Linked DNA regions of Homo sapiens. The protein of the gene in region 3 purifies or fractionates together with the protein of the main gene of each other region. This does not show direct contact. Each region holds a gene or a part of one and is shown on either strand. Other genes may lie near its edges.

Evidence for each region.
Region 1: the proteins of QTRT1 (region 3) and PLS1 purify together in Homo sapiens (affinity purification with mass spectrometry; 3 studies listed by BioGRID and IntAct, with this or other methods). This does not show direct contact.
Region 2: the proteins of QTRT1 (region 3) and POLE4 purify together in Homo sapiens (affinity purification with mass spectrometry; 2 studies listed by BioGRID and IntAct, with this or other methods). This does not show direct contact.

Annotation. Positions count from the first base shown.
Region 1 is NC_000003.12:142,668,327-142,678,840, reverse strand, and holds part of PLS1 (plastin-1), read right to left. Parts: intron 9,452-10,514; coding exon 9,288-9,451; intron 7,849-9,287; coding exon 7,719-7,848; intron 2,685-7,718; coding exon 2,552-2,684; intron 810-2,551; coding exon 728-809; intron 1-727. UniProt on the Homo sapiens protein: Actin-bundling protein. In the inner ear, it is required for stereocilia formation. Mediates liquid packing of actin filaments that is necessary for stereocilia to grow to their proper dimensions.
Region 2 is NC_000002.12:74,952,894-74,963,620, reverse strand, and holds the start of POLE4 (DNA polymerase epsilon subunit 4), read right to left. Parts: upstream 4,979-10,727; 5' UTR 4,942-4,978; coding exon 4,729-4,941; intron 4,281-4,728; coding exon 4,196-4,280; intron 3,517-4,195; coding exon 3,475-3,516; intron 1-3,474. UniProt on the Homo sapiens protein: Accessory component of the DNA polymerase epsilon complex. Participates in DNA repair and in chromosomal DNA replication.
Region 3 is NC_000019.10:10,694,967-10,705,907, reverse strand, and holds the start of QTRT1 (queuine tRNA-ribosyltransferase catalytic subunit 1), read right to left. Parts: upstream 4,470-10,941; 5' UTR 4,448-4,469; coding exon 4,205-4,447; intron 3,959-4,204; coding exon 3,890-3,958; intron 3,793-3,889; coding exon 3,654-3,792; intron 1-3,653.

The DNA.
Region 1 (10,514 bases), on a different chromosome or scaffold from region 3:
TTCGTCAGGGATCTAGAACTAGAAATACCATTTGACCCAGCCATCTCATTACTGGGTATATATCCAAAGGACTATAAATCATGCTGCTATAAAGACACATGCACACGTATGTTTATTGCAGCAGTATTCACAATAGCAAAGACTTGGAACCAACCCAAATGTCCAACAATGATAGACTGGATTAAGAAAATGTGGCACATATACACCATGGAATACTATGCAGCCATAAAAAATGATGAGTTCATGTCCTTTGTAGGGACATGGATGAAATTGGAAATCATCAGTCTCAGTAAACTATTACAAGAACAAAAAACCAAACACCACATATTCTCACGCATAGGTGGGAATTGAACAATGAGAACACATGGACACAGGAAGGGGAACATCACACTCTGGGGACTGTTGTGGGGTGGGGGGAGGGGGGAGGGATAGCTTTAGGAGATATACCTAATGCTAAATGACGAGTTAATGGGTGCAGCACACCAGCATGGCACATGTATACATATGTAACTAACCTGCACATTGTGCACATGTACCCTAAAACTTAAAGTATAATAATAATAAAATAAAATAAAAATAAAAAAAAGGATTCCAAAAAAAAAAGTTTTTATAGGAGAATAGCATTACAATTAAATCAAAGGTTTTATCTGGGTCCAAGCATTCATTAATAAAGGTCTTATATTTCTCAGCATAGTAACATGATAATAAGCAAAGGGCAAATACTTACAGAAATAGTGAATGGCGTGAGCTTTTTCTTATTGATGGCTCTTTCATCAATTGTATCTGGTTCAGATAAGTTGATCATTTTGCTAAAGAGAAAATGAGAATAATTTAGTTTAATACTCCAAGAAATTTTTTTAGTTTATTATTGCAAACAGCCAAAATAGATAAATTTTGAAAATAACAATTCATTACTTTAAAATATTAAACAGTAAGCCAGGCATGGTGGCACATGCATATAATCTCAGCTACTTGGGAGGCTGAGCCCAAGAGTTTGAGGCCAGCCTGTGTAAAACAGAGAGACCTCATCTCAAAAAATAATAATAATAATTAATTAAACTATAATTCATGCCGGAACTTAATTCTTAAAATCCAAGAAATATTCCCATTCCTAAAACAAATCCATCACTCACTGCAATAGTAATCTAAGCATTTCTCCTAATTTTTTTTAACCATCCTGAATTTTCTTTTTTTTTTAAGAGGGAGTCTACCTCTGTCACCCAGGCTGGAATGCAGTGGTGTGATCTCAGCTCACTGCAACCTCCACCTCCTGGGTTCAAGTGATACTCCTGCCTCAGCCTCCCGAGTAGCTGGGATTACAGGTGTGTGCCACCTCTCAGCTAATTTTTGTATTTTTAGTAGAGATGGGGTTTCACCATGTTGGCCCGGCTGGTCTCAAACTCCTGACCTCAAGTGATCCTCCTGCCTCAGCCTCTCAAAGTGCTGAGATTACAGGCATGAGCCACCACGCCCAGTCATCACCCTGAATTTTCTTTATGTTAGTTTTGTCTTTATTTCACTTAATGATCATCAGTATTCCGCAGCCTAAAACAAAGAAATTCTCCAAGAAGCCAAGTTTCATAAAGTAGTATCAACACTGTTAAAATTACTGTTGTTGCAGAAAGATACGAAGCCAGAGATTTCATCTAAGACCAATAATTTAGACATTTTCAGAGAAATTAATATAAATTTTGTCTCTATATTTTAGAATTTTACCTTTTAAAACAAGAATAGGAAAATACCCATTTGGTTCATAATAGGAATTTCTCTGAGAGTCAAAGAAAGATAAGAATTGTAGGTGGAGGTCAAGGTATATTTTATATTTAATGTCATAAAATCTAATATCCTGTACTTATGGGTAAGGTTTTGTTTTCCTTTTTAAGTAAAAACATAAAAAAAAAGACTGAAGGAAATGTGTTAGAATATTAATAAGTCATTTATGGGTGGTAAGGATATTTTTGATGGTTATTTTCTACTTTGTAAATCTTTTGTACTTTTTATAAACTAAAGAAAAGACCTCTGCTTTGTCCAAAGAAGTATGCTGGGACTGTGGTACACACAACAATGACAAAGACATTCCCTCAGAGAGTTTACAACATAGTGAGAAAAAATAGAATGCAAAGAGCCAAGGATAACACAAGGCTGAATCAAAACATTATTTTCATTTAGGTACAAATAAGGAATATCTTCCCTTTACATTTCCTCATGTCCCATTCCAGTCAATAATCAATACTCGCTTACTGGAAAAAGAAAAGAGAAACCCTGCGAATATTTAAAACTGCATCAGACAAATAACTCAAAAGATTCCTGGCAATTATTATAGTAATACACGTAAAAGGCAACAGAAAAACAAGGGATTGTATTTGAAGGAAAATTTTGGAAATTTTCCAATAGATATACAGTAGTTCATTTTCTATGCAATATAAATTCCTCATGACCTAAGTAGCTACTGACTCCAAAAGACAATGGACAGCTGAATTGGAGTTTTCATGGAATGCTCATCAATGTAATCAGCAAGAACGCAGCTTCCTTAACCAGAAGTTCAACTCACCAAAGAAGGATGCCATCTGCAAGTGACTTGAAAAGACTATCATCATTGGGATTCATGGGTATAAGATGCTTACAGTCAGGGTCATTCTCCAGGGCTTTGTTTATCCAGTTAACAAAAGCCACTTTTTCTTCCTCTGAAAGGAGAAAACCTTGGTAGGCAAATCTCATTTCACAAACTTTATTGCACTATAAAAACATACATAGCTATTGCACTACAAAAACATACTTGTTAATTTCTGCTCAAAGATAATAATTGACCATTATTACAAATCTACTAAAACACAAAAGGGTTCAAGAAAAGAAGAAAGGTGGCTGGGTGTGGTGGCTCACGCCTGTAATCCCAGCACTTCCCAAAGCACTTCCAAGGCGGGCTGATCACTTGAGGTCAGGAGTTCAAGACCAGCCTGAGCAACATGGAGAAACCCCCGTCTCTATTGAAAATACAAAAATTAGCCAGGCATAATGGCACATGCCCATAGTCCCAGCTACTCGAGAGGCTGAGGCTTCAGGATTGCTTGAACCGGGGGGTGGAGGTTGCAGTGAGTGGAGATCCTGCCACTGCACTTTAGCCTAAGCCACAAAGAGAGACCCTTTCAAAAAAAAAAACGGGGAGCACGGTGGCTCACGCCTGTAATCCCAGCACTTTGGGAGGCTGAGACGGGCAGATCACGAGGTCAAGAGAGCAAGACCATCCTGGCCAACATGTTAAAACCTCATCTCTACTAAATAAACAAAAATAAATTAGCTGGGCATGGTGGCGTGGGCCTGTAATCCCAGCTACTTGGGAGGCTGAGGCAGGAGAATGACATGAACCCAGGAGGCAGAGCTTGCAGTGAACCGAGATCGCGCCACTGCACTCCAGCCTGGTGACAGAGCAAGGCTCTGTCTCAAAAACAAAAACAAAAAACAAACAAAAAAACAAACAAAAAACTGATCTATTAGGAGAGATGAAGGTATATATCTTAAATGAGCACAATATATATTTGGTTTGATTCAAAAATATTTCCAAATATGTATTGCTTCTGAAAGCTAATGAGTCAGAAGCAGACCATCGGAGGTCAAATATGTATATGTTAATTAAATAAGGAAAAAAATACAAGAAACAAATACCATGGCAATAAATCCCATCCTCCCCAAAAGGTTTAGAGAGCTGTGATTTTTAGCTTACAACAGAAATACTGAATTCAGTCAAGAGTTATTCAAATGAATAAAACAGCTCAATTTCAATGGAATTTAACTATTAAAAAATTGACACAAATTGGCTGGGTGCGGTGGCTCATGCCTGTAATCCCTGCACTTTGGGAGGCTGAGGTGGGCAGATCACCTGAGGTCAGGAGTTTGAGACCAGCCTGGCCAACATGGCAAAACCCCATCTCTACTAAAAAATACAAAAATTAGCCAGGTGTGGTGGCAGGCACCTGTAATCCCAGCTACTCTGGAGGCTGAGGCAGGGAGAATTGCTTGAATCTGGGAGACGGAGGTTGCAGTGAGCCGAGATCACGCCACTGCACTCCAGCCTGGGCAACAGAGCAAGACTCTTGTCTCAAAAAAACAAAAAACGAAGAAAAAATTGACACAAATCTAGATACCAGCACTATCTTTGGCCATCTTCATCCAACAACTTCTCAACACATGGCTTCTAGTATGGGTACATTGATCTTAAGTAGAAAATTTTGTTGGGTTATGCAGTGGGGAAAATAGGAAGGAACTTAAAGTAAAAACATTGTACAACTTTATTATTATTCTGTAGATATAAAAACCATTTAAGATTATAAATCCTTAAAGTAAATAATCCCCATTTCCATCAGAGGGTAGCACATAATGATTTGGCCTTCTCCATTGTTGCCCCAGTTCCTAGAATTAAGTAATTTTCCCAAGGGAATATTTTGCAGGTACCCCCAAAATTTAATCCACCACACATACATACACACACAAGTCAACAAAAACACAAATATGTACTAATATTTCCTCTTTGTACATATCATAATCTGCCTTATCTTCTCGCCTCCTCATACACACCTCCTTAGAAGGATTTGGAGTCTAGGAATTCAGAGATCACTAAAATACTGTATCTGCCATTGAGGAATTTTTTAGTGTAATTGTAAAACAAATATACAAAGAAATGTGATATAAGGGAAATACACACACCACCAGAAATATATATGCAATGTTTGCAGAATTTAAAAAAAGAAGCAATCACTTTTAGTTAGGGTGATCAAGAAAAGGCTTCATAGAGGAGGTACTATTTGAAATATAGTTTTTCAATAGGTGAATATAGGCAAGGAAAGAAAGGATGTTTCAGGTATAGGAACCAGGAATGAGATACCACATCACAACCACTAGGATGGCTGTAATTTTTTAAATGGACAAAAACAAGTGTTGGTGAGAATTGAAGAAACTGGAGCCCTCATACATTGCTGGTGGGAATGTAAGATGGTGCAGCCACTTTGGACCTTGAGAGCTTGTTTGGAAGTTCTAGCAGGGGAGTGCAGCTACTCGTATACCCTTGACCAAAGACCAGTCCTCTTCTATTGGGATGGTTGTCCTCTTCAACCGAGCACGCAGCTTCGGGAAGGACTCACATGGAGCACTGAGGGAGGAAGGGGACACCTGCCTAGCCAGCCAGATCAGCCAAATCAACCCTGGCAATCAATGGGGTGACAGATGTCGCAGCCAGATCGCCCTCACAAGTGCAGCCACTTTGGAAAACAATTTGGCAGTTCTTTAAAAATGATAAACATAGAGTTAACAAAAATTCAAGCAATTCTACTCCTAAGTATATGCCTACGAGAATTCAAAGTATATGTCCACACACAAATGCATTCATGAGTGTTCATATAGCATTATTTATAATAGCCAAACACTAGAAACAACCCAAATGTCCATCACCTGATGAAAGGATAAACAAAATGTGGTATTGCCCATAGAATGGAATATTCAGCAATAAAAAGGAATGAAGGGGCCAGGTACCATGGCTCACACCTGTAATCCCAAGGCAGGCAGATCGCTCGAACCCAGGAGTTCAAGATCAACCTGGGTGACATAGCAAAACCCCATCTCTACAAAAGATAGAAAAATTAGCTGGGCATGGTGGTACACATTTGGGAGGCATGGTTATGCACTTGGGAGGCTGAGGTGGGAGGATCCCTTGAACTCTGGAGGTCGAGGCTGCAGTCAGAAAAAAAGGAATGAAGTATGATATATGTGACAACATGGATAAGCCTTGAAAATATTACACCAGTGAAGAAGCCTGTCAAATGAAAGGCCACTACAGTATGATACCATTTATATGAAACTTCCAGAATAGGCAAATTTGTAGAAATAGAAAGCAGTTTAATGGTTGCAGAGCCTTCGGGAAGAGGGAAATGGGGAGTGACTGATAATGAATATAGTGTTCTTCTTTGGTGTAATGAAAGTGTTCTGAAATTAAATAGTGATGACAATTGCACAACTATGAATACACTAAAAACTACTGAACTGTATACTTTAAAAATGTATTCCATGGTATGTCAATTATATCTCAATAAAGCTGCTATTTTTTATAAAAGCCATTAAATATTCCATATATTTTTCTAGAGAATAGTTATATAGGTGTATTCATAGGTTAAAAGAAATCATCAAGCCATATACTTAAGAATAGTACACTTCAGCCTGGTGTGGTGGCTCATGCCTGTAATCCCAGCACTTTGGGAGGCCAAGGCGGGTGGATCATGAGGTCAGGAGATCGAGACCATCCTGGCTAACACGGTGAAACCCTGACTCTACTAAAAATACAAAAACATTAGCTGGGCGTGTTGGCGGGCACCTGTAGTCCCAGCTACTCAGGAGGCTGAGGCAAGAGAATGACGTGAACCTGGGAAGTGGAGCTTGCAGTGAGCCGAGATCGCACCACTGCACTCCAGCCTGGACGACAGAGCGAGACGCCATCTCAAAAAAAAAAAAAAAAAAAAAGTACACTTCATGCACTTTACTACAAGTATCTTATACCTCAAAAAATAAGTAAACAAAAATTTATGGTGACAAATATCAGAAAAGAGGTTACCTCTAGGGAAGAATAGTTACTATCAGGGGAATGAGGGAGTCTTCAGGTGATGAAAAGATTCCATGTCTTGTTCTGGTTGGCAGCTACATGAATGTATATACACATGGAAAAATTCATTGAGCCATATACTTAAGATTATAGCACTTTGCTGAATGTGTATTATACCTTAATAATTTTTTTTTGTCTTTAAAAAGAAGCCACTTCAGTAGAATTGACAGGCAGAAACTGGGTTAAGGGGTGAATACCTTTCAAAAAGTGAAGGTAACAGTTATGGACCTTTGCCTTTATGGCTGCTTCCCTAGTGGGAAAAAGTTAGGAAAAACATATAATAGATGAGAGAAATTTGAGTGTATCGCTAGAGGAAAATCCAATTAGGAAGGGACAGAATCAAGAGGATAATTAACAGATTCAGATCTGAAATGAAGAAAGAGGGGAAAAGGTTACAGGTAATTTTGTCAAAAGGCCAAAAAGCATAGTTCTAGTTATGTTCATATAAATAAAAAGAACTTGGCCAAAGGTTCTTAGACATCTTAGATAACTTAACACGGGGAAGACACCTCATCTTAAAAGTTGATATGCTTCTGCATTTCCCACTGGGCAATGGTCCAGTGGTTTAATCAGATCAAGCAAATCAGGTGCTATGCTCTCTAGTCACTTGGTTACTAGATAAAAGGTGAATCGGGTATCTCAGATCTCAGAAAATGGAAGAGAAAAATCCTTGTGATAGAAGCCTCTCCCCCATTCCTAGCTCAGGTCTAAAAGTAAAGCCACCTCATCAGTCAGGATGAAAAGCCATTGAAAAGCCACTTTTAAATACATCTAATGCTGGAGTATAAACAACTTCCACTTTGTTGTTTATAATCTTGTTTCTGTAGACTGAGCCTGATACACAGCAGGAACTCATTGATTTCAATGATTCTAGGATTTTTCATTTTGACATCTGTGAAACTGAGATGTATTTCAAATTCAATGGCATGTTATACTGTGGTCTGCAGTATTTTTTTCTCCTCAGTGGCACATAAAATAACGGTATGAATCACAATGAGTGGCATCTTAGAACTGATTAAATATGTCACTTAATCAATGAATCAGTGACTAAAAGATCAAATTTGGAGAAGTCAGTTACCTGAATAAGAATGCTGTGTGCCCTCACTGGAAATAGTTGAAGTTCCTCCAATAGCAGTAATCCCTTCCCTCTTGTTAATTATTTTTCGGAATGTTTTGCTGATATCTTTGCTTTTTAATTCTTGCATTAGCTGGAATGGAACATAAGTAAAATTGAGAATCAGATAATCAATAAAAACCTGACAAAATGGATATTTATTTACACTTCTTTATTTGAAATGACACCAAATTAAATACTAGTCAGTTGTACTTATTGCTTGTATACACAGATAACTTTCATCATTTTACCAATAACACAAAATAGACAAATACTTGAACCCCAAACGGTGGAATAAATTTTTTATAACTAAGCTTAAATTGAACACACTGAAATTATTCTTCTTGGCTTGCCATAATCTTTTGTACTGAAAACCTAAGAAATAACTAACTACATGCTAAAGATAGAAGAATGCCTTAATGAAGATATTTTCCTGCCTGAACATCTCAAATGCATTCATGATAAAATAAGTCAGCTCTTAGAGGAAATAACATAGGCTTACAGAAACTCCCTTTCCCAATCACTCTCTCACTGGACTCACCAGAGATTGGCAAGACTCAATTCAATCAGTTCTGCTTGCAGCAAAGTGATTGGGTTTTTTTTTAAATGCAAATCTGATCTTGTCACTTCACATTCTATTCTTCCCACTTCATTGTCTTCCTATTGCTTTTAGGATAAAAACAAAAATTCGACATGGCCCTGTGTGACCTGATTCTGAGTTACTTCTCCAGCTACATTCCTTACCCTTACCATCTCAGCTCCAGTCACACAAACCTTCTTTCAGTTGCTTGAGAATATTCACCATCTCTAAAGCCACAGGGACTCTACACATGCTGTCATGTCTACCTGCCTCCTACATTATTCATTTTCCCACAACCCACTTTTATCTGTTTAACATCTTTCTTCAGAACACATCACAGTCTTCACACTGTAGGGATACCTTCCCTGAGTCCCTGGGTTATCCAGCCTTGCCTCCAAATTCAATTCCTTCTACCACAAACTCTCACAGGACCTGTACCACTCTGTCATAGCAATTCTCCAATTATCTTTTATCAATTTGTGCAATGCAGTCTTCTCCACACATATAAACTCCATGAAGACAGGAATCACGTTTCTTTTTACTCATCACATTACTCACAGTGCCTAGCAAAATTTCTAGGAAGAGAAGAGCTAAAATACCTGCTTAATCAATAAAGAATGCAAAACCAGACAATTTATATTTCATAAATATTTATTCAATTATATTAATGGTCAATAAGCATTGAACTCACCTAGTTATTCTAGGGAATGAATTACTATTATCTAAACCTGATTTCCATTCCAACAATTTGAGAATAATTTTTTCCTTTGTTTTATGAATTAGTTGTGGAAATTATTTCGATAATAATAGTTATTGTCATCATCATCATCATCATTTTAAAGCAGTCCTTTTTCTGGTCTCTGAAGCTGGATTTAACCAAAGCTAGTGATGACATTACTACAATTCTGCTCTAAGCAAGATTATCAGTAGCCCGAAAGGATTAGATTACTTACTGACACAAACTCTTCAAAACTGATTTTGCCATCTTTGTTGCTGTCAGCAACTGATAGAATTTTCTCCACAATCTCGCGCACCTTGTAGCCAGGCAGAGGAAGGCTTGCTTCCTTAAACAGGTCTTGAAGTTCATAGTCACTGACATACCCACTATTGTCAATATCTGTAAAGATATATTATAAAATATATTTTGTAATCTTTGTTGAAGGTGTACAATAAGGATGCCTTTTGGGAGGATTCATAGATGTGCAGACAGAGCCTTTCACATTTGTTTCACAGGTGGCAGTAACCTTTTTTCCTGTACCTGAACTGTACAGAATATGCTATATGCTTTATTTTAAAAACTCGTATTTAAGCCAGGCTTGGTAGTTCCAGCTATTTGGGAGACTAAGGTGAGGGGACTGCCTGAGCCCAGGAGTTCGAGGCTGTAGTGAGCTATGATCGCACCACTGCCCCTCAACTTAGGCAATAGAGTGAGACCCCATCTCTTAAAAAACGAAAACAAAAACAAAACAAAAACTTTGTATATATTTAAATCGAGTTTATCCCCATAGATTTAGGGCCACCATATATATTTTAAGGGTATTGTTGCTCTGATAGAAAACCCAGTTTTAGCACATGACTAAGCATCAAAGAAATAAGCATGGGGGGGGCCAGGCGCAGTGGCTCACACTTATAATCCCAGCACTTTGGGAGGCCGAGGTAGGCAGATCACCTGAGGTCAGGAGTTTGAGATCGGCCTGGTCAACATGGTGAAACCCCATCTCTACTAAAAATGGAAAAATTAGCTGGGCATAGTGGCGGGCACCTGTAATCAAAGCTACTCAGGAGGCTGAGGTAAGAGAATCACTTGAACCTAGGAGGCAGAAGTTGCAGTGAGCCGAGATTGCGCCACTGTACTCCACCCTGGGCAACAAAGCGAGACTCCATCTCAAAAAAAAAAAAAGGAATAAGCATGGGGAAGTCACAGATAGCTAAAAAGGGAGCACCCACTCAGACTTTAACTTCTTGAGGGAATTTAGAAAATAAATCTGCTGACCCCACATTCCATATAAAATACATGCGCTGTGTAAAATACGCATAAGGCATTTGTGTTCTACGTTTCATTTGGTGGCAGTTCTGTTTCATCTGTCAATAATTCATTGCTTCTTCATTATGTATTCATGATACCATTACGTATGCTGAATCATGCTTGATGTCATTTGAGATTAGGTGTTCAAGAAATT
Region 2 (10,727 bases), on a different chromosome or scaffold from region 3:
AGTTACGTGAGAATCTCTTGAACGTGGGAGGGGGGGCTGCATTGAGCAGAGATCATGCCACTGCATTCCAGCCTGGATGACAAAGCAAGACTCCACGTCAAAAAAATAAATAAATAAAAATGAAATAAAATACAGCAAGCATTTTTATAAGTCAATAAGAAAAAGGACAAAAATAGCTAACAGAAAAATAGAAGACACCCCTCAAAAAAAAATGGGCATGTATATGAAAAGACGCCCAATGTCACCCACAATCAGGGCAATACGAATTAACACCACATGCAACTATCACTTACATTCAATAACAGCTTGTCAAAAATAAAAAACTCTGGTAATACCAAGTGTGGGTAAGAATGAGAAGCAATGGGAATTATCATGCACTGCTGGTAGGAACGTGAATTGGAATACAGGAAGTTCAGCAGTACCTGCCAAAGATGGAGATACGAATACTCTATATAGCCTAGGTCCCAGCAGTATTATATATTTTATACACACATATACATCCACCCTAGAGAAATATGTACAAGATTGTTCACAGCAAATTGTTTATAATAGGAGAAATAAGGTTTCCCAAATATCAACATTAAAATAGTTCAATTGTGGTACTGTCATATAGCAAGGAACACGAACAAATGAGTTATGTGCAATCACACAGATGAATCTCATAAATGTGTTAACTTAAAACAGTTGTGTGACAGATGTTGGCCAACGAATGCATACGGTTTGGTTCCATTTGCAGAGAGTTCAACAAAACAAAACTAAACCTTAGTGTTCAGGGATGCATGCTTATATAGTAAGCTATAAAGAAAAGGAAGTAATTACCAAAAAAGTTAGGAAACAGTAATGTCGGGAAAGGGGATGAGAATAGGTATGATGAAGAATGAATATACGTGGGACTCTGGGGGCTGACAATACCCTATCTCTTGGCCAAGATGGTGGTTACGAGAGTGTTCATTTTATCATTTATTGACTTTACATTTACAGCACACACTTTACATACGTTGTATTTCATATGACTTAGAAAAAGAATATACATATACACATACAAACATATTTGCATAAAATATCCAGATTACAGAAGAAAACTAGTAACAGTTGTTTGCAGGGAGGGGACCTGAATGAGGAATTAAGGGACAGAGAGAAGGTAGAGAAAGACTGTTTACAGTCCTAGTTTTCAACTTCTACAATCAACCAGAGATAAAGCATGGAAGATTTAATTGTGATAAGATACAAATGTTATTAGCTTTGACAATGTCAAATTACTAGATAACACAAATTGATAGCTAGATGTGAACTAGAAAGGGAAAAGGGATACATGCACTAATAGTCATACTTTACAAACTGGGGAGTCAAGGAATACATTAAAAATTGGACACAACAACCAAAGACATCCTAGTATGTTATATAAACTGTAAAGGTAAAGAAACTAAAACTAGTGATACAACTACCAAAAATCAGAAAGACAGCAGGGGATTTATGGGGTTCTACAGGTTAGCCAAATCTTCATTTATCACAGCAGGAAGTCAATACATACCGTCTACAGCTGACAAACCAATGGGTAAGCATATTAGTTAGAAATAAACGTAACCACCAGAAAAGCTCAAAACACAAACAAAACAGTGGGTGGACGGCAGCTGTACTTCATTATAAGCCATTAGGTAACGATTTGATTTTCAAGTATGGATATGTATTATAAAAACGAAAAAAATGTATTTACTTAGACCATACACACCTAAGGACATAAGAACATTTATTTTACCCAGTAAAAAATAATATAATGCAGACTGAATCCACAGGGGCTATGATGGCTAACATTCAGATCTACCAATGTAGGACAGAGCAAAGGGATTCAATTACAGAGATAAATGAGGATGAAGGCAGAGGATGAAAATAAACACACCAATCATTCAATAAATGGCCATTTATTAAAAATCCAAGCTAAGCACTATGCTGTGATAGAGGCTAGAGTGGAAAACTACATAAGACCACCCCACTTCTATTCCTAGTACCCTCCAGTTTATTTTCCCCAGGGCAGCAATGTTGTGCACTTAAAATACAAATCTGATCATATCACTCATGTCTTTGAAAAGCTGGTAATTAAAAATGAAGAGGTAAAGTAGGCTCCAAACATTTTTGACTGCAGAACTTACAGAAAGTCTGTCACAAGGAGTGCCTGCCTTAGGTAGGACTAACAAAAGTTAATTTTAAGAAAAATGAGTAGGTGGAAAGAGAGGCTGAAGAAAAATCTGCAAATTAAAAGAATGCTCAATAGTCTAGACATAGAGTTGGCCATGGTAGTCTATCTATCTAATAAGACATTTAAAAAATATCTATCAAAAGGACCAGGGGCCTAGGTTGACAGGGAGATGCAGAACAAAGGAGTAAAAAAGAGTGGAATAAATCAAGATATTTCTAAAGGTAATAAGGCTTGAAGGAGGTAATGAGAACACCCTGGGAGAATAAGGATACATGGCTTTTGCTAAGCTATTCAATCAAAATACATGTGTCGCTCAACAACAAGGATACATCCTGAGAAATGCATCACATCTTCAGGCGATTTCACCACTGTGTGAACACCATAGAGGGTACTTACACAAAGCTAGATGGTATAGCCTACTACACACTTAGTCTACAGGGTATACCTATTGTTGTCAGGTTACAAACCTGAACAGCATGTTACTGTACTGAATACTGTAGGCAACTGTAACATGAGGATAAGTGTATTTAAACAAATCTAAACATAGAAAAGGTAATGTATTTCATTAGGATGTTATGACCACTACCTCACTGGGCAAAAGGAATTTTTCAGCTCCATTATAATCTGATGGGACCACCCTCATGTGAGCAGTCCATGGCTGACCAAAAAGTTATTACGCAGCACATGACTACATACGTGTAGTGAAGAGTAAGCTGATCAGACTGAAGAATTAAGTAGCAGAAATCGCTCTGAGGCTAGGTAGCTAAAATTAGGTATTTCAAATATTTTCTTTTTTAATGACAAAATTTAGTTAGTACACAAGTTAATCCATGACTCCTAAAAATACAGACAAGTACAAGTCTTATTGCAGCAAAATAATCACTTCACACAGATTGTTGAAGAAAAAAGAACAAGCGGTGACCCTTTAAATGTTAACAATTGTTTCTGATCTGTAACATGATGAGGGGGGGCAAGCCTGACATTTAGGGATGGCGATCAAAGTAGGAATCGAACTTTCGAATTCATCTAACTCCACTGGGATCTTTATATTCCCTCCTATTTCTTTATGGTTAGCAATTTTCAGGTAGAAATTTTAATTCCCCAAGGGAGAAAACTGAACCTCACTAGGTTTAGCAAGTTACTTTTTTCTATCCTAATAGCAAGTGCGGAGAATTATCCCTACACAAACAAGAAGCAGGCATCCGTTTTATGAGATTTTGAATTTCACATCAACATGCAAAAGACAGGCGGAAATGATTGCCCACTGAGAGGGAACTCACCTTCCAGAAAAGCAAATTCATCCACAGCTTCTATTGCATTATCTGAAACACAAGGAAAAGAGACACCTGACTAACTTCAGCCATGCTGACCTCAGTCAGAAAACAGCACAATCTGCAGTGAAGGGCATGAGGCTTTGGGCAAATGAGGGCATTTATAAGATGCGTCCCTTGCTGCCTTGAGATCCATATCTACTCTACCAGCAACTCTTATATATATTAGCTGTCTCCCTAGAAGAGTTAAGAAAAGCATAGGCAAATACCATTCAACGCGGGGGTTGGGGGCCTCCTAAATTACCCCTAAATTATTTATTCGCTTTGCTCTTAAAGTTGTCAGAGAAGAACGTGGCAATAGACGCAGGGCGCATGAGAATACGGTATACGAAATCTTACCCAGGTGAGGGTTCCCAGCCAGACAAGAGTCAGAAATCAAATCCCCAGTTGCTAGGTGAAAAAGAAATATCTTTTTCTGGTGCAATTTGGCAGAAGGTATGAAGGGATCCAGTCCGCTACGGCAACCCCAGACACCTTCACACACTGCCCCGCCACCCCAAGCAGACAGCCTCTACAGGTAGGGCTTCCTGGCACTGTGGCCAACAGAAACCATCCTGGGGAGAGACGCTGTGGCACCTCTCAGATCAGAGTGACGTCTTCTCAACCTGCACAAGGGGAAACCAGCCCAGCCCTCCCTTGTCTGTCCCCAGACACTGCAGTGCCACTCTACCCAAGTCTCTCCTCTGAAGGGTTTTCCTTTTTCCCTGCTGAGCGCAACAGTAGGCATCTTTTGCAATGGTCTCCACAAACAGTTCCTGTGAAGTAAAAAAGCAAAGTTTTAGTAATGGGTTCTAACACACTGAGGAGGTGAGGGCTCCGGTTTGTGGGTGGGGGCAGAAAGGGAGAAGAAAGGCTCGGGGCAAGAAAATGTTCTGGAAGCTAAGATTGTCCTGGACTTCATGAAGATCCATTCCGCTACCCTCTTCCCAGTATTCTCCCTCATTCACTAAAGACTCCTACAAGTTCTGTACGAGGCCCTGGAGATACAAATTAAAGTCACTCACTATCCAGGTCCTCAACAAGAGGGAGGAGTGTTAACAAAACTCGCACAGGTCCCCGGCCCCTTTCCTCCGCCTTCCGGGTCCACGCCCACATCTCAAAACCCGGGCCACGCCGCCCTAAGCCCCGCCCGCGGGAGGCCCCGAGGCCCCGCCCCACACTCCACCTCCCCCACTCCCGCATGCCCTCGCGCTGCAGGCGCACCGCGGCTCGTGCCAGAATGAAGATGGCTTCCTGTCCCGCTAGCGTCACGTCGGGATCTGCCTTCACCAAGGCCTTCACTCGCGCCAGAGGCAACCTCGAGAGACGAGCCCCAGGCACACTCGTTGGGGCCTGGGGCTGCGAGGCCGCTGCCTCCCCAGCAGGTCCCTCCTCCTCTCGGGGCGTCCCGCTTCCTGCCGCCGCCGCCGCCGCCATCCCGGCCTTGAGCGTGCTGCGCGCGGCCGCCGACTGTGCGCGCGCATGCGGCGCAGGCCCTTTCCCGCGCGGGCTGGAGGCCACACCCTGTGTAGGCGCGCGGCTCCGCCCCTACGCGGCAGTGCGCTGCCAGGAAACCGGGTGGGCGGGGGTCGGGCTCCGGCTCTTCCCACGCGCCTAGCCACCCGTGGGCTGTCGTGCACTTGGTTGACGCTACCGGCGACCCTCTGGCCCCGACGGGCCTGTGGAGCCCAGGCACCTCCCATTGGTGCCTGTGCCTGGCTGGTGAGGGGAGAAATCTAGACCAGGCTCGCAAGAGAGTCTCCGTCAAAACAGAGTGTGCATATTCCAAGGCTAACGAGGGCACGTGTCCGAGGGAGGCCCGGCCCTGGAGGGCCCAGCATCGTGGAAGAGGGTGCCAAGGAGGCAGCGAAATCTGGACCAAATTCAAGGATAACCAGTTATAGATGCTCTTGAAGGAGGGGTAGGGCTTTTGGCAGGCAGAAATGAAGAAATTCAGCCCAGCCAGAGGAAACAAGAAAAAGTCATGGAGGCTAGAAAAGATGAAATTGTGGTGGTGAGGCATCCACGTTTGTTCAAAAAGAGGTTGCATCACAGCTTTGGTTCTCAAATTTGACCTCAAGATCCCTTTACGGTCTTAAAGATTGTTAAAGAGCCCAGGGAGCTTTTGTTTCTGTCAGTTATATCAATACTTACTATATTAGAATTAAAGTTTTAAAATATTGATTTAAAATTACTAATGCGTTACCAGCTAACAAACAACATTTTTATGACAAGTAATTTTTTTTAAATCTAGTAAGAAAAGTCTCTAATGTCTGATTTCATGTGAGAACTGGATTCTCTAGCTGCTTCTGTTGCTAACGTTAGCACTTCTCAGGTAGCTCTTAAAAAACTACTACATCTTGAGAGAATGTGAATGAAAAAGGCAACCTCATAGTAGTATTAAGAAAATAATTTTGGCCTCATGGACTCCTGAAAAGGGTCTCCAGAAAATTCCCACCCCCATGAATCCCCACACCACACTTGGAGGTCTGATAGCGTAGAGGAACAGTTAATATTTAAAATAGGTTTAATCTAAGTCAATCATAATAATAGTGAACACCTTTAAACATTTACTATGTGCATGATTCAAAGTGTTTTAGATTTATGTAAATCATAACTTCTGTAATTTTCACAATACCCTATTGAGGTAAATATTATAACCTTCTTTTTCAAACCTTATTTGAAAAAATTGAGGTGCAGAGTGGTTACTGAGTCGCATACACAGGGCAGAATGTGGTGAAGCCAAGATGAAGCTGAATTAAACACATCTGAAATCACTCAGTTCCAAAATTATGTAGTAAACTCTGACTGGTGTAGGAGTGGAAAGGTGTGAAACCTTTCTTTACCCATTTTAAGGGTCACAGCTGACACTCCTATAACACACACAAAAAGCCTAACAAGTCTAATCAAAGTTTTACATGACATGAGAGTCCAAAAATGCAGACCATGAGACCTAGAGGAAACTATTTTTATGCTTAGGTTATATGAAGAAGGGATCGCTGTGTAGAAATGTGATTAGAGGCCTGGTACGGTGGGTCACACTTGTAATCCCAACACTTTGGGAAGCCAAGGCAGGAGGACCGCCTGAGCCCAGGAGTTTGAGACCAGCCTGGGCAACAGATGGAGACCCCATTTCTACACACACACACACACACACACACACACACACACACACACACACAAATTAGCTGGGTATTGTGATCCTATAGTCCTAGCTACTTGGGAGGCTGAGGTGGGAGAGTTGCTTGAGCCCAGGAGTTCAAGGTTACAGTGAGCAATGATTGCACCACTGCACTCCAGCCTGGGCGACAGAGAGAGACCCTGTGTCTTAAAAAGAAAAAGAAATGGGATTGGACAAAAAGGGAATGATAATAGTCTAATGGTAATAGACTGAATGGGGAAACCCAGCAAGGCCTGTCTGTTCATATTCTTCTTGGCCTCCCTGTGTAGCATTCCTTCTGGTATTAGGGCAGGACCCTTCTGGAATGAGGGTCTTCAAGGGAGAAGGCAGAAAATAACCTTTCTAGGTTTTACGACTTGCTTGGAGGAAGGAGAATTCTAGTTTCTATGACCTGCGTTGGGAAAGAGGAATTCTGGTTTCCATGACTCACTGCGAAGAGTGGTGATGTTACAGTGGGTAGCTAGTCAGACACGAACAGGGCAGGATAGGGCCCCCACGCTCCACCAGGAATGTCAGAAGATCATCAGGTGATGGTCAGACAGTGGTCACACCGCCTCTCTAAAATAATAATTGCTCATAGCCAGCGCCAGGGAAAGGCAGTTTCCCTATAGATAGAAAAACCCTGAAACTGATGATCAGGAGCTTCCTGATGAGATCTCAGGAGTTGGGCGAGCGGGCTCACGCATGCACACTAAGAGGCAAAATGGTGGAATTTAACTGATATATGACCTTCTGGGGGCATTCTACTGAAAAAGGGAAGAACGCCTCAGGTGAGCATGCTTACAACTTCAATAAATACACTGCACTTGCTCCCCTCCCCAGCGCTAGCAGGCTACTGTGCATTTCGACAACCCACCCCAAGGGAAGAATCAGGGTAGAAGGGATGCAAGACCCCAGAAGTATGCCAACACATAAAAACCCAAGTCAAAAGGTCAAACCTTGCACTTGTCCTTCAAGTCACCCACTTGGGCCTCTTCTCAGTGTACTTTCCTTCCTTTCGTTCTTGCTCTAAAGCTTTTTAAGAAATTTTCACTCCTGCTTTAAAACTTGCCTCAGTCTCTTCTTTTGCCTTATGCCCCTCAGTCGACATCTTCTGAGGAGACAAGAATCGAGGTTGCTGCAATTTGCTGCCAGTAACTGTAATAACTTCTACTGCTTACAGTGGAAAACAGGACAGGAGAAGTTCAGAAAGACCTTGCTTCTGAGGCCTTTCCAATTTTCTTCAGTTCAAAGTACTCAGCATTCCAAAGTACCATACTTTGGGGTATCATGTAATGAGCCCCAACCCTGAATTAGCACAGAGACACTCCACTATAGCAGAATAAGAGTCTTGGCCCAGAATTAAAATCTGCAGAAGAGGATATGAGTTGCTGAAAATTGAACCAGAGCAGCCATTAGGGCCTCAGTCCTGGGTTCTTTTCAGATTACATTTATGGACACTCTCACTCATGGAAAGCTCCACACAAAATTCATAAAAGCATGACCAGATTCTTGTGTCACAGTGCACAAGAACACCTCACAAGAGCTATACTCCAGCAATCGCAAAGTAGCTAAGTACTAAATTGACCTAAATTCTGAATTAACATAAGACAGTTGACAATGGTGGGGGTGTTACTGGACCCCACCACTTACCCAAAGTTAGCCTTTGGGTCAGGGGTTTCCTTGCTAGAGTCCTTTCGTGGTCACCAGAAAAATGTTACAGGAAAGGGGTTCTGATCCAGACCCCAAGCGAGAGTTCTTGAATCTCACACAAGAAAGAATTCAGGGCAAGTCCATAAAGTAAAGTGAAAGCAAGTTTATTAGGAAAGTAAAGGAATAAAAGAATGGTTGCTCCATTGGCTGGGCAGCCCTGAGGGCTGCTGGTTGCCCATTTTTGTGGTTATTTCTTGATTATCTGCTAAACAAGGGGTGGATTATTCATGTCTCCCCTTTTAAGACCATATAGGATAACTTCCTGATGTTGCCCTGGCATTTGTAAACTGTCATGGTGCTTGTGGGAGTGTAGCAGTGAGGACGACCAGAGGTCACTCTCCTGGCCATCTTGGTTTTGGTGGTAAGTTTTAGCTGGCTTCTTTACTGCAAACTGTTTTATCAGCAAGGTCTTTATGACCTGTATTTCGTGCCAACCTCCTATCTCATCCGCTGACTTAGAATGCCCTAACCATCTTGGAATGCAGCCCAGTAGGTCTCAGCCTCATTTTGCCCAGCTCCTATTCAAGATGGAGTTGCTCTGGTTCACACACCTTTAACGGGCAGGAGGAGTTAAGAGTTCTTGAAAGGGCTGAGTCAACTTGGCTTTCAGAGGATTCTCATTTCAACCCCCTTTTCTTCCCAATTTTGTCTCATTCATATGTTCCCTGCCTTTCCTCCTTTTCTCCTTTTTTGTTCCCCTTCGTGTTCTTTTTTTTTTCTTTTCTTTTCTTTTCCTCATCACTTGAATGTCTCACCACTTGGTGCAGTCCTTCTCTCCCTGGTTTGACTATGACTAACCAAGAGTTTATGGAGACCAGACAGGACTTCCTGACTATAAGTATTGAACAGCACTAAGGTGTGTTAGAAAGGGAAATCACGTTTCACAGTTTTTGAGTTTCAGTGGAAAAAAGGCAGAAGAAACAGGAAGACGAAGGTTGAAAAGCTCAAAAAGCCACACACGCACACACGGTTCGCATTCCAGTCCAAATAGAATGAAGGCTAAAAATATCTTTAAAAGGCTACGTGATGAAAATTAATGCAAAAAAAACATGATGTGTGTTAAGTGAAGTTTGGCCTAAAGCTGTCTCTTTACATAGTTTAAGTTTGGCCTAAAGGTTTCTTCATATGTAGAGAAATGCAAGGTAACTTGATGTGAAAACGGTCACTTACTCTTGTAAGAAATAGCCAAGTTTCAGCCAATTACAGGCAGCCAGCTGCTCAAACCAGGTTCAAACCAGGTTCAAATAAGGCAAACATCAAGCTGTAACCGTTCCAGCTATTTCTGTACCTCACTTCCATTTTCTGGACATCATTTTCCTTGTTATCCTACCATGCGGCAGGCCTAAAATCACACTGAATCTATTCTGGTTCTGGGGGCTGCCTGATTCGAGAATCATTTTTTGCTCAGTTAAACTCTGTAAAATTTAACTTGTCTAAAGTTTTCTTTTAACTTGTGAAGTATTTTATCTAATAAGCTAAAGATTAAAGACAGCTTGCCATCTACCATACTGGAGTAAGTGTCCTATCCAGGAGATAAGTTAGTGGAGGAACCAGTATCACTTCATTTCTGAATTTTTTTAAAAAAAAATCATATATGTGTTGTATGTACACGTGTGTATTGTTAAAAGATAAACCTAGGCACATTAAAATTTTAAAGAGTTGATTTGAGCAGATAGTGATTCATGAATCGGGTAGTGCCAAACCACAGCTGGGTCTGGGCTCCACTGAGGCAGGGGGAGGGGAGATGCTTTATAAAGTATTTGAGGAACAAGACAAAGAAAATATTTGATTGGTTAAAGTAGAGCAGTAGCCATAAAGTTCCTAGTTAGAGGTGAGTTGGCAGTGATAACAGAATGGCTGGGCTCTCAGTTAAACCCCACCATTAAGCCTGGAACTACAGCCCTAAGTGAAAACAGCTGACCCATTTTTCTACCTGAATGTTGCCTTTTTGGCCTGCCACACCCCTATCCTGTGCCCATAAAAAAACTTTAACTGGCAGAGCAATACAAGCAGCTGAGCGTCAGAGATACAAGCAGCTGAGCGTCAGGGACACAAGAAGCTGGGCATTGAGGATACAAGCAGCTGAGCATCAGGGATACAAATGGCTGAGCAGAGAAGCAACTGAGCATCTAAGACTACAGACAGATGTGGCTAACTTCAGACAGTGCAGCTTCAGGCAAAGATCTTCTTCTCGCACCATCCCCTTTCCAACTCCCCATTCTGCTGACAGCCACTTCCACTTCCATCACACAATAAAATCCTCTGCATACGCCAACCTTCAATTCATTCGTGTGACGATTCTTCCTAGACACTGGACAAGAACCCAAATGCCAAGAGGACAAGGGCTGGG
Region 3 (10,941 bases):
CTCCAGCCTGAGTGACAGAGCGAGACTCTGTCTCCACAAAAAAAAAAAAAAAAAAAAAAAAAAAAAAGAACAGGCCAGGCCTGGTGGCTTGCGCCTGTAACCCCAGCACTTTGGGAGGCCAAAGCAGGTCAATCACTTGAGATCGGGAGTTCAAGACCACCCTGGCCAATATGGTGAAACCCTGTCTCTACAACAAATACAAAAATTAGCCCGGCATGGTGGCATGCACCTGAAGTCCCAGCTACTTGGGAGGCTGAGGCAGGAGAATCGCTTGAACCCAGGAAGCAAAGGTTGCAGTGAGCCGAGATTGCACCACAGTACTCCAGCCCGGGTGACAGAGCGAGATTGTGTCTCAAAAAAGAAAAAAAGGGGCAGGCGTGGTGACTCACGCCTGTAGTCCCAGCACTTTGGGAGGCCGAGACGGGTGGATCACCTTAGGTCAGGAGTTCGAGACCGGCCTGGCCAACATGGTGAAACCCCGTCTCTACTAAAAATATAAAAACTAGCCAGGTGTGGTGATGGGCACCTGTAATCCCAGCTACTCGGGAGGCTGCAGCAGGAGAAGTGCTTGAACCCAGAAGACAGAGGTTGCAGTAAGCCAACACAGTGCCACTGCACTCCAGCCTTGGTCAAAGAGTGAGACTCCTTCTCAAAAAAGAAAAAAAAAAAGAAAAGACGAAAAAATAAATATGGGGCTGGGTGCGGTGGCTCACGCCTGTAATCCCAGCCCTTTGGGAGGCTGAGGCAGGTGGACCACCTGAAGTCAGGAGTTCAAGACCAGCCTGACCAACAAGGTGAAACCCCGTCTCTACTAAAAGTACAAAAATTACCAGGCGTGGTGGCAGGCACCTGTAGTCCCAGCTGCTGGGGAGGCTGAGGCAGGAGAATAGCTTAAACCCGGGCAGCAGAGGTTGCAGTGAGCCAAGATCGAGCCACTGCACTCCAGCCTAGGTGACAGAGCGAGATTCCACATCAAAAAAAAAAAAAAAAATTACGACATTCATTAAAAAGCTAGAACTTTAGCTGGGCATGGTGGCTCACACCTGTAATGCCAGCACTTTGGGAGGCTGAGGCAGGCGGATCACCTGAGGTCGGGAGTTCAAGACCAGCCTGACCAACATGGAGAAACCCCGTCTCTACCAAAAATACAAAATTAGCCGGGCATGGTGGCGCATGCCTGTCATCCCAGCTACTCGGGAGGCTGAGGCAGGAGAATCGCTTGAACCCAGGAGGCAGAGGTTGCTGTGAGCCGAGATTGCGCCATTGCACTCCAGCCTGGGCAACAAGAGCGAAACTCGGTTTCAAAAAAAAAGAGGCCGGGTGCGGTGGCTCACGCCTGTAATCCCAGCACTTTGGAAGGCCGAGATGGGCGAATCACGAGGTCAGGAGATCGAGACCATCCTGGCTAACACGATGAAACCCCGTCTCTAGTAAAAGTACAAAAAAATTAGCTGGGCGTAATGGCGGGTGCCTGTAGTCCCAGCTACTCCGGAGGCTGAGGCAGGAGAATGGCATGAACCCAGGAGGCGGAGCTTGCAGTGAGCCGAGATCGCGCCACCGCACTCCAGCCTGGGAGACTAAGCAAGACTCCATCTCCAGAAAAAACAAACAAACAAACAAAAAACACATGGGGGCTGGCACAGTGGCTCATGCTTGTAACATGAGCACTTTGAATGGTCAAGGCAAAGGACTGTTTGTAGCCAGGAGTTCAAGACCAGCCCAGATAATGTAGTGAGACTCTAATCTCTACAAAAAATATTTGGCCGGGCATGGTGGCTCACACCTGTAATCCCAGCACTTTGGGAGGCCAAGGCGGGCAGATCGCTTGAGGTCAGGAGTTCAAGACCAGCCTGGCCAACATGGCGAAACCCTGTCTCTACTAAAAATACAAAAAACTAGCTGGGCGTGGTGGCATGCACCTGTAATCCCAGCTACTTGGGAGGCTGAGGCAGGAGAATTGCTTGAGGCCAGGAGGCAGAGGTTGCAGTGACCTGAGATTGTGCCACTGTACTCTAGCCTGGGTGACAGAGTGAGACTCTGTCTCAAAATAATACATAAAAATAAATAAACATAAAAAAATAAACTTATAGGCCGGGCACAGTGGCTCATACCTGTAATCCCAGCACTTTGGGGGACCAAGATGGGCAGATCACTTGAGGTCAGGAGTTCGTAACCAGCCTGGCCAACATGGTGAAACCCCATCTCTACTGAAAATACAAAAATTAGCTGGGTGTGGTAGCGGGCACCTGTAATCCCAGCTACTTGGGAGGCTAAGGCAGGCGAATTGCTTGAACCAGGAGGCAGCTGTTGCAGTGAGTCATGATCGCGCCTCCGCCTCCCAAAGTGCTGGGATTACAGGCGTGGCCACCGCACCCAGCACGTGGCTTCTTTTCTTATAAGGGTTTTTGTTATAGGGGCTTCAGCCATGAATCTAAGAAGAAAAAATATTTCTTCCTCCCTACAGCATCAATCTATTAGAATGATGAGGGGAAGAGGGGTTTTGACCCTGTGTTGCCATGGTTCTTTATCAAGAAATGGGGATATTGGGCCAGGCGTGGTGGCTCACACCTATAATCCCAGCACTCTGCGAGGCCGAAGCAGGTGGATCACCTGAGGTCCGGAGTTTGAGACCAGCCTTGCCAACATAGTGAAACCCGTCTCTACAAAAAATACAAAAATTAGCTGGGCATGGTGGCAAGCAGTTGTAATCCCAGCTACTCAGCAGGCTGAGGCAGGAGAATCACTTGAACCCAGGAGGTGGAGGTTGCAGTGACTGGATATCACACCATTGCACTCCAGCCTGGGCGACTCTGTCTCAAAAAAAAAAAAAAAAAAAAAAAGCCAGGTGTGGTGGCTCACGCCTGGAATCCCAGCACTCTGGGAGGCCGAGGCAGGCGGATCACCTGAGCTCAGGAGTTTGAGAGTAGCCTAACCAACATGGAGAAACCCTGTCTCTACTAAAAATACAAAATTAGCCAGGTGTGGTGGCGCACACCTGTAATCCCAGCTACTCGGGAGGCTGAGTCAGGAGAATCACTTGAACCCGGGAGGCAGAGGTTGCAGTGAGCTCAGATCGCAAAATTGCACTCCAGCCTGGGCAACAAGAGCAAAATTCTGTCTCAAAAAAAAAAAAAAAAAAAAAAAAAAAGAAGGATATTGAGGATATGGGAGAAGCCTAAAGCCTCCCCAATCCTCTTGTTGCCACCATTATTTCAACAGATATTTGTCCAATTAATTTGTTTTTTTTATTTTTTATTTTTTATTTTGGTAGAGACAGGGTCTCCCTGTATTGCCCAAGCTGGTCTCCAACTCCCGGCCTCAAGTGATCTTCCCGCCTCAGTTTCCCAAATTGCTGGGATTACAGGCATGAGCTTCCACGTCCAGTCTTAATTTGCTAATGAGAGAAAAACTGCAATAATAATACTTAAGCTACTACATGGCTGGGATGGAGATTTACTGACATCATCTCATATGTACTTGTCAACAATTCTACCAAAGACCTGCTACTATTTACCCCCGCTTTGAGTTGGTTCAACTGAAGCTCAGCGAGGAGTGACCTGCTCAAAGCCACACAACAGCTAAAAAACAGGCCCCGTGTAAACTTCACCCCCTGACAGACAGGGTAAGGAGGCGGCTCCCCAGGGTCCTCTCACCCAGCGCATTCTGGATCTGCACGGATTTCTCCGGGCTCAGCAGGGTCTCATTGCCGTCGTAGGGGGAGCGGAAGCGGACGCCCTCCTCCGTCACCTCGGACAGAGACACCAGCGACACCATCTGGAAACCGCCGCTGTCCTAAGGGAAACCCCACCGCAAAGCTGTCAGGGGGTGGAGATGGGGACCCTTCACTCCAGAGAAGGGCCCTAGAACGTCGGCTCTCTCCTCAGCTCACCGTTAGCAGATTATGAGGCCAATTCATGAAGCCGTGGAGACCGTTGGCTTTCTGGATCAGCTCGGGTCCCTGGGTTGATGGAAGAAAGTGTCAGGTTAGGGGTGACCGCGTCCCTGGGGGCCCTTCTTGGGAGACAGATCTGGCCAGCTTTAGTCCCTGCTGCTCTTTCACGCCCAGTACAAGGCCTGGTCATTGGGGGCGCTCAATACAGCTGGTCGATTGACTTTGGGAGGAGTGTCCGGGCCTGGAGGACGCTCCATGGCTCCCCACGCCTCGCCGCCTCGCCGCCTCCCCGCGCGGGCAGAGCCCACCCACCGGCCTTAGACCCAGATGGTAGGTATTGCCCAGGCAGATGCGGCAACCCAGAGCGTCCAGCTGTTCGGTCGTGATGCCCTTCATGGTGGCCTGCGTGCCCACTGGCATGAACACAGGAGTGGCCACTGTCCCATGCGGCAGCCACAGCTCGCCTGCCCGGGCCCTGGAGCGGCTGCATTCGGCCACCAGCCGCATGATCCGTGGGGCCGACTCCAGGGAAGCCTGGGTAGCTGCTCCCGCCATCTTGACTGTCGGAACCACGTGGGCCGTACCACACAGTGGGCGGCGCCATGTTGGCCGCTGTCACGTGACCACGCGATCCGTTCTGGAGCCCGGGAAAGCGTCGGGGGACCATGGCAACGGATTTGAACCCCTGGTCCTGGCTGGGGGCCCATTTAACTCCTACCCACAACACGCTAAAGCGAAGAATCAGAATTGAACTGGGAACGAATCCCATCCCTAGCACTTTCGAGCTACAATCAGAGACTCTCTTAGCCATAATTTTCTCTTGGATAAAATGTGGCGAATTACAGCATCTCGGCATAAAGACTTTGTAAAGATTGAATAAAGGGCCGGGGGTGGTGGCTCACGCCTGTAATCCCAGCACTTTGGGAGGCCGAGGAGGGAGGATCACGAGGTCATGGGATGGAGACCATCCTGGCTAACACAGTGAAACCCCGTCTCTACTAAAAATACAAAAAATTAGCCGGGCGCAGTGGCAGGCACCTGTAGTCCCAGCTACTCCGGAGGCCGAGGCAGGAGAATGGCGTGAACCTGGGAGGCAGAGCTTGCAGTGAGCCGAGATCGTGCCACTGCACTCCAGCCTGGGTGACAGAGCGAGACTCCATCTCAAAAAAAAAAAAAAAAAAAAAATTAAGCTGGTGTGGCTGGGTGCGGTGGCTCACGCCTGTAATCCCAGCGCTTTGAGAGGCTGAGGCGGGCGGATGACCTGATGTTGGGAGTTCGAGACCAGCCTGACCAATGTGGAGAAACCCCGTCTCTACTAAAAATACAAAATTAGCCAGGCATGGTGGTGCATGCCTGTAATCCCAGCTACTCCGAAGGCTGAGGCAGGATAATTGCTTGAACCTGGGAGGCGGAGTTTGCAGTGAGCCGAGATCGTGCCATTGCACCCCAGCCTGGGTAACAGGAGCAAAACTCTGTGTCAAAAAGAAAAAAAAGTTTTAAAAATTAAAAAATTAACAGGTTGTGAGCCAGGCACGGTGGCTCACGCCTGTAATCCCAGCACTTTGGGAGGCCAAGGCGGGCGGATCACGATGTCAGGAGTTCAAGACCAGCCTGGCCAGTATGGTGAAACCCCGTCTCTACTAAAAAAATACAAAAATTAGCCGGGCGTGGGGGTGCGTGCCTGTAGTCCCAGCTATTCGGGAGGCTGAGGCAGGAGAATCGCTTGAACCCGGGAGGCGGAGGTCGAGCCACGATTGCGCCACTGCACTCCAGCCTGGGCGACAAAGCGAGACTTCATCTAAAAAACAAAAACAAAAACAAAATCAAAACAAAAACATTAACATGGTGTGGTGGCACGCCCCTGTAGTCTCAGCTACTCAAGAAGCTGAGGCAGGAGGATCACTTGAGCTGAAGAGTTGGAGGCTGCAGTGAGCTATGATTGGGCTACTGTACACCAGGCTGGGCAACAGAGTGAGACCGAAACCCTAAAAAAAAAGATAATAATAATATACAATATTATATAGTAATTGTTATCATTACAACTGGATCTGATATCTGTCCTGGCCAGCAGAGAGCGCTATTGTCCCAGAAGATGTCCTTTCAATTGTCTTAAACTGAGCTACTCTGGCCAAGAGGGTGTCTAAGGGAGCCTCAAGCCCCCTATCCTGTAAGAAAGGCTAAGGATGCCGGTTGCCCAGATGGTGGGGCATCCTTAGTAAGGCCACACCCGGAAAACCCGCCTGGAAAACACCCCTGCCCACCAGCAAGCCAACCTCAGGGCCTTTGCACCTGCCTTTGTCTACAACACTCATCCTTTCTTTTCTATTTCTTTTCTTTCTTTTCTTTTCTTCTTTTTTTTTTTTGAGACAGAATCTCACTCTGTTGCCCAGGCTGGAGTGTAGTGGCACAGTCTCAGCTCACTGCAACCTCCGCCTCTCAGGTTCAAGCGATTCTCCTACGTCAGCCTCCCAAGCAACCGGGATTACAGGTGCCTGCTGCCACACCCGGCTAATTTTTTTTTTATTTTTGAGATGGAGTCTTGCTCTGCTTCCCAGGCTGGAGTGCAGTGGCACAATCTCTGCTCACTGAAAGCTCTGCCTGCCAGGTCCACGCCATTTTCCTGCCTCAGCCTCCTGAGTAGCTGGGACTACAGGCGCCTGCCACCACGCCCAGCTAATTTTTTGTATTTTTAGTAGAGACCGGTGTTCACCATGTTAGCCAGGATGGTCTTGATCTCCTGACCTGGTGATCCACCTGCCTTGGCCTCCCAAAGTGCTGGGATTACAGGCGTGAGCCACCGCACTCGGCCGTTTTTTGTTTTTTTTTTTTTTGAGACGGAGTTTTGCTCTTGTTGCCCAGGCTGGAGAGTGCAATAGTGCAATCTTGGCTCACTACAACCTCCACCTCCTGGGTTCAAGTGATTCTCCTGCCTCAGCCTCCTGAGTAGCTGGGATTACAGGCATACGCCACCACGCCTGGCTAATTTTTTTGTATTTTTAGTAGCGACAGGGTTTCTCCATATTGGCCAGTCTGGTCTCGAACTCCTGACCTCAGGTGATCCTCCCACCTTGGCCTCCCAAAGTGCTGGGATTACAGGTGTGAGCCACCGCGTCCGGCTAATTTTTGTTTTTAGTAGAGATAAGGTTTCACCATGATGGCCAGGCTGGTCTCAAACTCCTGACCTCAAGCGATCCACCCATCTAGGCCTCCCAAAGTGCTAGGATACAGGTGTGAGCCACCGTGCCCAGCTAATATTTCTATTTTTCAAAATGTTTACCAGGCGCAGTGGCTCACGCCTGTAATTCCAGCACTTTGGGAGGCCAAGGTGGGTGGATCATATGAGCCCACGAGTTAGAGACCAGCCTGGGCAACATGGCAAAAAAAAAAAAAAAAAAAAAGTTAAAAAATTACCCATAATTCCAGTTACTTGGGAGACTGAAGCAGGAGGATTGCCACAGCGCCTGGCCAATATGTGTTTAAGTCTGCTTCTTGCCAAGCTTTCTGTGTTATTCTGATGCCCACTCGTTTCAGAACCACTGTTTTTCACTCTTGGCTGCACATAGAATTACCTGTGGAGTTTTTAACTATCTCTATGCCCAGACAACTTAAACTAAAATCTATGGTGAGTAGCTTATGTACTTTGGGACGATGAAGTAGGAGGATTGCTTGAGGCCAGAAATTAGAGTCGCCCAGGCTAGGGTGCAATGGTGCGATCTCGGCTCACTGCAACCTCCACCTCCCGGGTTCAAGAAATTCTCCTGCCTCAGCCTCCTAAAGTAGCTGGGATTACAGGCGCCCACCACCATGCCCAGCTAATTTTTTGTATTTTTAGTAGAGACAGGGTTTTGCAATGTTGGCCAGGTTGGTCTCGAACTCCTGACCTCAGGTGATCCACCTGCCTCAGTCTCCCAAAGTGCTGGGGTTACAGGTGTGATCCACTGCACCTGGCCGATCATCTCTTAAAAAAAAAAATCTATGGGGATGAGACTCAGTCATCAATTTTCTTTTGTTTTTTGTTTTAAGCCTCAAGGAATTTCTGTGTGCAGCCAATGTTGCCTCTCAGTGGTTTAGGTTCCAAAAACAGCATTTCATTATCTTATCCAAAGTGAGTCTCTTTCTTTTCTGGGTGACCTTATCTTGGAGCTCTGACCTGCCTGCAATTCTTGGTTATCCAAAGCTTCTGGGATGTTGGAGGGAATCCTCTGCATTTTAGAATGCAATCACCATGATTGGATGAATGGCTGATTGGATTAAGGGTTGCCTGGATTTGCTGTTCTGAAGCTAGTATAGCCCCTTCTTTTCTTGGCCACCTAACACCTGACCCCGCTCATACACCCCTGCATTGAGAGAATGTCATATTTTTTAAGGCTAAGCCTGCCTTTCCATAGAAGTTATAATTGACAGTTACTTTCCCAGCCTGCCCTGCAGCCAGGCTGCACAAGGCTCAGGTTCTGCCATTCACAATTTGGATCAAAAGCCAGTGGTGGTGGCCGGGCACAGTGGCTCACACTTGTAATCCCAGCACTTTGGGAGGCTGAGGCGGGCGGATCACCTGAGGTCGGGAGTTTGAGACCAGCCTGGCCAACATGGAGAAACCCCATCTCTACTAAAAATACAAAATTAGCCGGGCATGGTGGCATATACCTATAATCCCAGATACTAAGGAGGCTGAGGAAGGAGAATTGGTTGAACCTGGGAGATGGAGGTTGTGGTGATCCGAGATCGTGCCATTGCACTCCAGCCTGGGCAAGAAGAGTGAAACTCCGTCTCAAAAAAAAAAAAAAAAAGAAAAAGAAAAAGAAAAAAGCCAATGATAAGGAGAAACAGGCCCTTGGGCTCGAAAACACTAGGGACAGGAGTTGGAGGCAGCTACATCCATGTCACAGAGATTCATGAAAATAAGAACAGTTTATGTCAAAACTGAAGCTACACTCAGGAAGTTTATAGGTGGTTGCACATCTGGTCTCCAGCCACAGTAATCCTTGTAGCATCAACTACAGTCTCTGTACTTAGTCATTGTGAGATTGGGCTATGTGTGGGGTTGGCGTTGGGGTACCACCACTAGCTGTGTAGCCCCTGATGCTGGTTCTCTGCCCCTCCTGGAGATCACTGTGCCACCTGACATTCTTCATTACACACTTTTCAAGCATAGACAAACGGACAGAGAATTGCATAGTTATCACCTTGTAACCAATGACCCAGCTTCAACAATTATCAAAAGAGGCTTAATCCACCCACTTAAACAAATATATTCTAGTCCGGATGCAGTGGCTCACGCCTGTAATTCCAGCACCTTGGGAGGCTGAGGCAGGTAGATCGCTTGAGCCCAGGAGTTGGAGACCAGCCTGGGCAACACGGCGAAAACCTCTGCTGTACTAAAAATACAAAAATTATACGGGCGCAGTGCTGCACACCTGTAGTCCCAGCTACTCGGGAGGCTGAGGCAGGAGGATAGCTTGAGCCCGGGAGGTGGAAGCTGCAGTGAGCTATGATCGCACCACTGCACTCCAGCCTGGGCAACAGAGCAAGATCCTGTCTCGAAAAAACTAAAAATAAAATTATATACATACATACATATAGAGAGAGGTCAATGTGTTCAGTAGGACAGGATAGTCAGGGCTGGGCTCACTGAGACGGTGGGATTTGAGCCTGAAAGGAGGATGGAGGAGTCATGCGGAATCGGAGAGAGCACTCCAGGCCTCGTGAACAGTTAAGAGCAAAGGCCTGGAGGTGGGAATGTGTCTGGATTGTCTGTTGTGAGCGCGGAGGTCAGTGTGGCTGGAGGTGAGCGGATGAGGGTGTGGAGGTGACGGCATGAAATCGCGGGAAGCCTTGGGCTTTCCTCTGAGCTGGATGGGACGGTAGGGCTTTCTCAGCCAACGTGGAGGGAAGTGGGCTCTACCTATTACCAAGAGATAAACTGGGGATAGGGCGCAAAGGAGGCTTAGTGGTCCCTGCTTTAGGGTGTTGGCACCGCCCACTTAGGAGAGCTGGGGGCGCCGTGAGCCTGCAGCTAGAGGCGGCGCTTGGTGTGCGGCTTCAGCACAGTGGACAGCGCCGTACGCGTTGCCTGGAGACCAGGAAAGCGGCCGCTCAGGGAGCGGAGCCTGCGCAAGCGCCCTATGAGGAGCGGCGCGCTCCACGCAGTGGCACACTCTGTGGGGGCGGGGCCTGCGAGTCCGGCCAATTAGAAGAGTTTGTTGCCGGGCGTGGTGGCGCTTGCCTGTAATCCCAGCTACTCAGGAGGCTAAGGCGGGAGAATTGTTTGAACCAGGGAATCAGAGGTTGCAGTGAGTGAGCGGAGATCGCGCCACTGCACTCCAGCCTGGGCGACAGCGAGACTCCGTCTCCAAAAAAAAATTTTGTTGACAACCCCAGGACGAAGAGAGTTTATACACAGGGCAGGGCCTGCGAAATCCCATCTGGAGTTGGAGCTTGTTGATTGCGCAAAGGAAGGAAGGAAGGGGCGGTGGGCACCCGGAGCCTAGAGACCGGCGGGAAGTTTGGAAGCGGTGGTTTGCAGCAGCTAGGCCTGGGGCGGTTTCCGCGCTCTTCACATGGAGGCTTGCGCAGCACCCAGGGTCGTGACTGGGGCTGTCAGATCCCGAAACTTGCCTTCTCTGGGATCGCCCGCGACTGCTCAGGGGAGCCCCCAAACAGGGGACTATATGGTTGGCCTTAGGGAGCGGGTGCTGAGGTCCTGGGTCCAGGATACGGACTTCTGAGCACTGACTGAGGAATACAGAACATTCAGGAGAGGAGAGTTAGGGGTTTTGCTGAAATAATGGTCCTTGGAGCCCTGAGTTCGGGTGGTCGTCTCGATAGCCTGGAGGATTTCTCCAGTTTATTCATCGGACGTGTGGGGACCGTCCCTCTGTGACATTGCCACCCACCTACTGCCCTGTTGCCAAGCAAGAAGACCTTAGGCGCCAGATCTTTTGAGAAGACAAAAGCACTGGCCCAAGACCTGGGAGTTCATGGACTTCTTGGCTACTCCGTGGAGAGAATGCTGGTCTCCCTGAGAATGAGAAGGACGGGCCCCTTTTCTT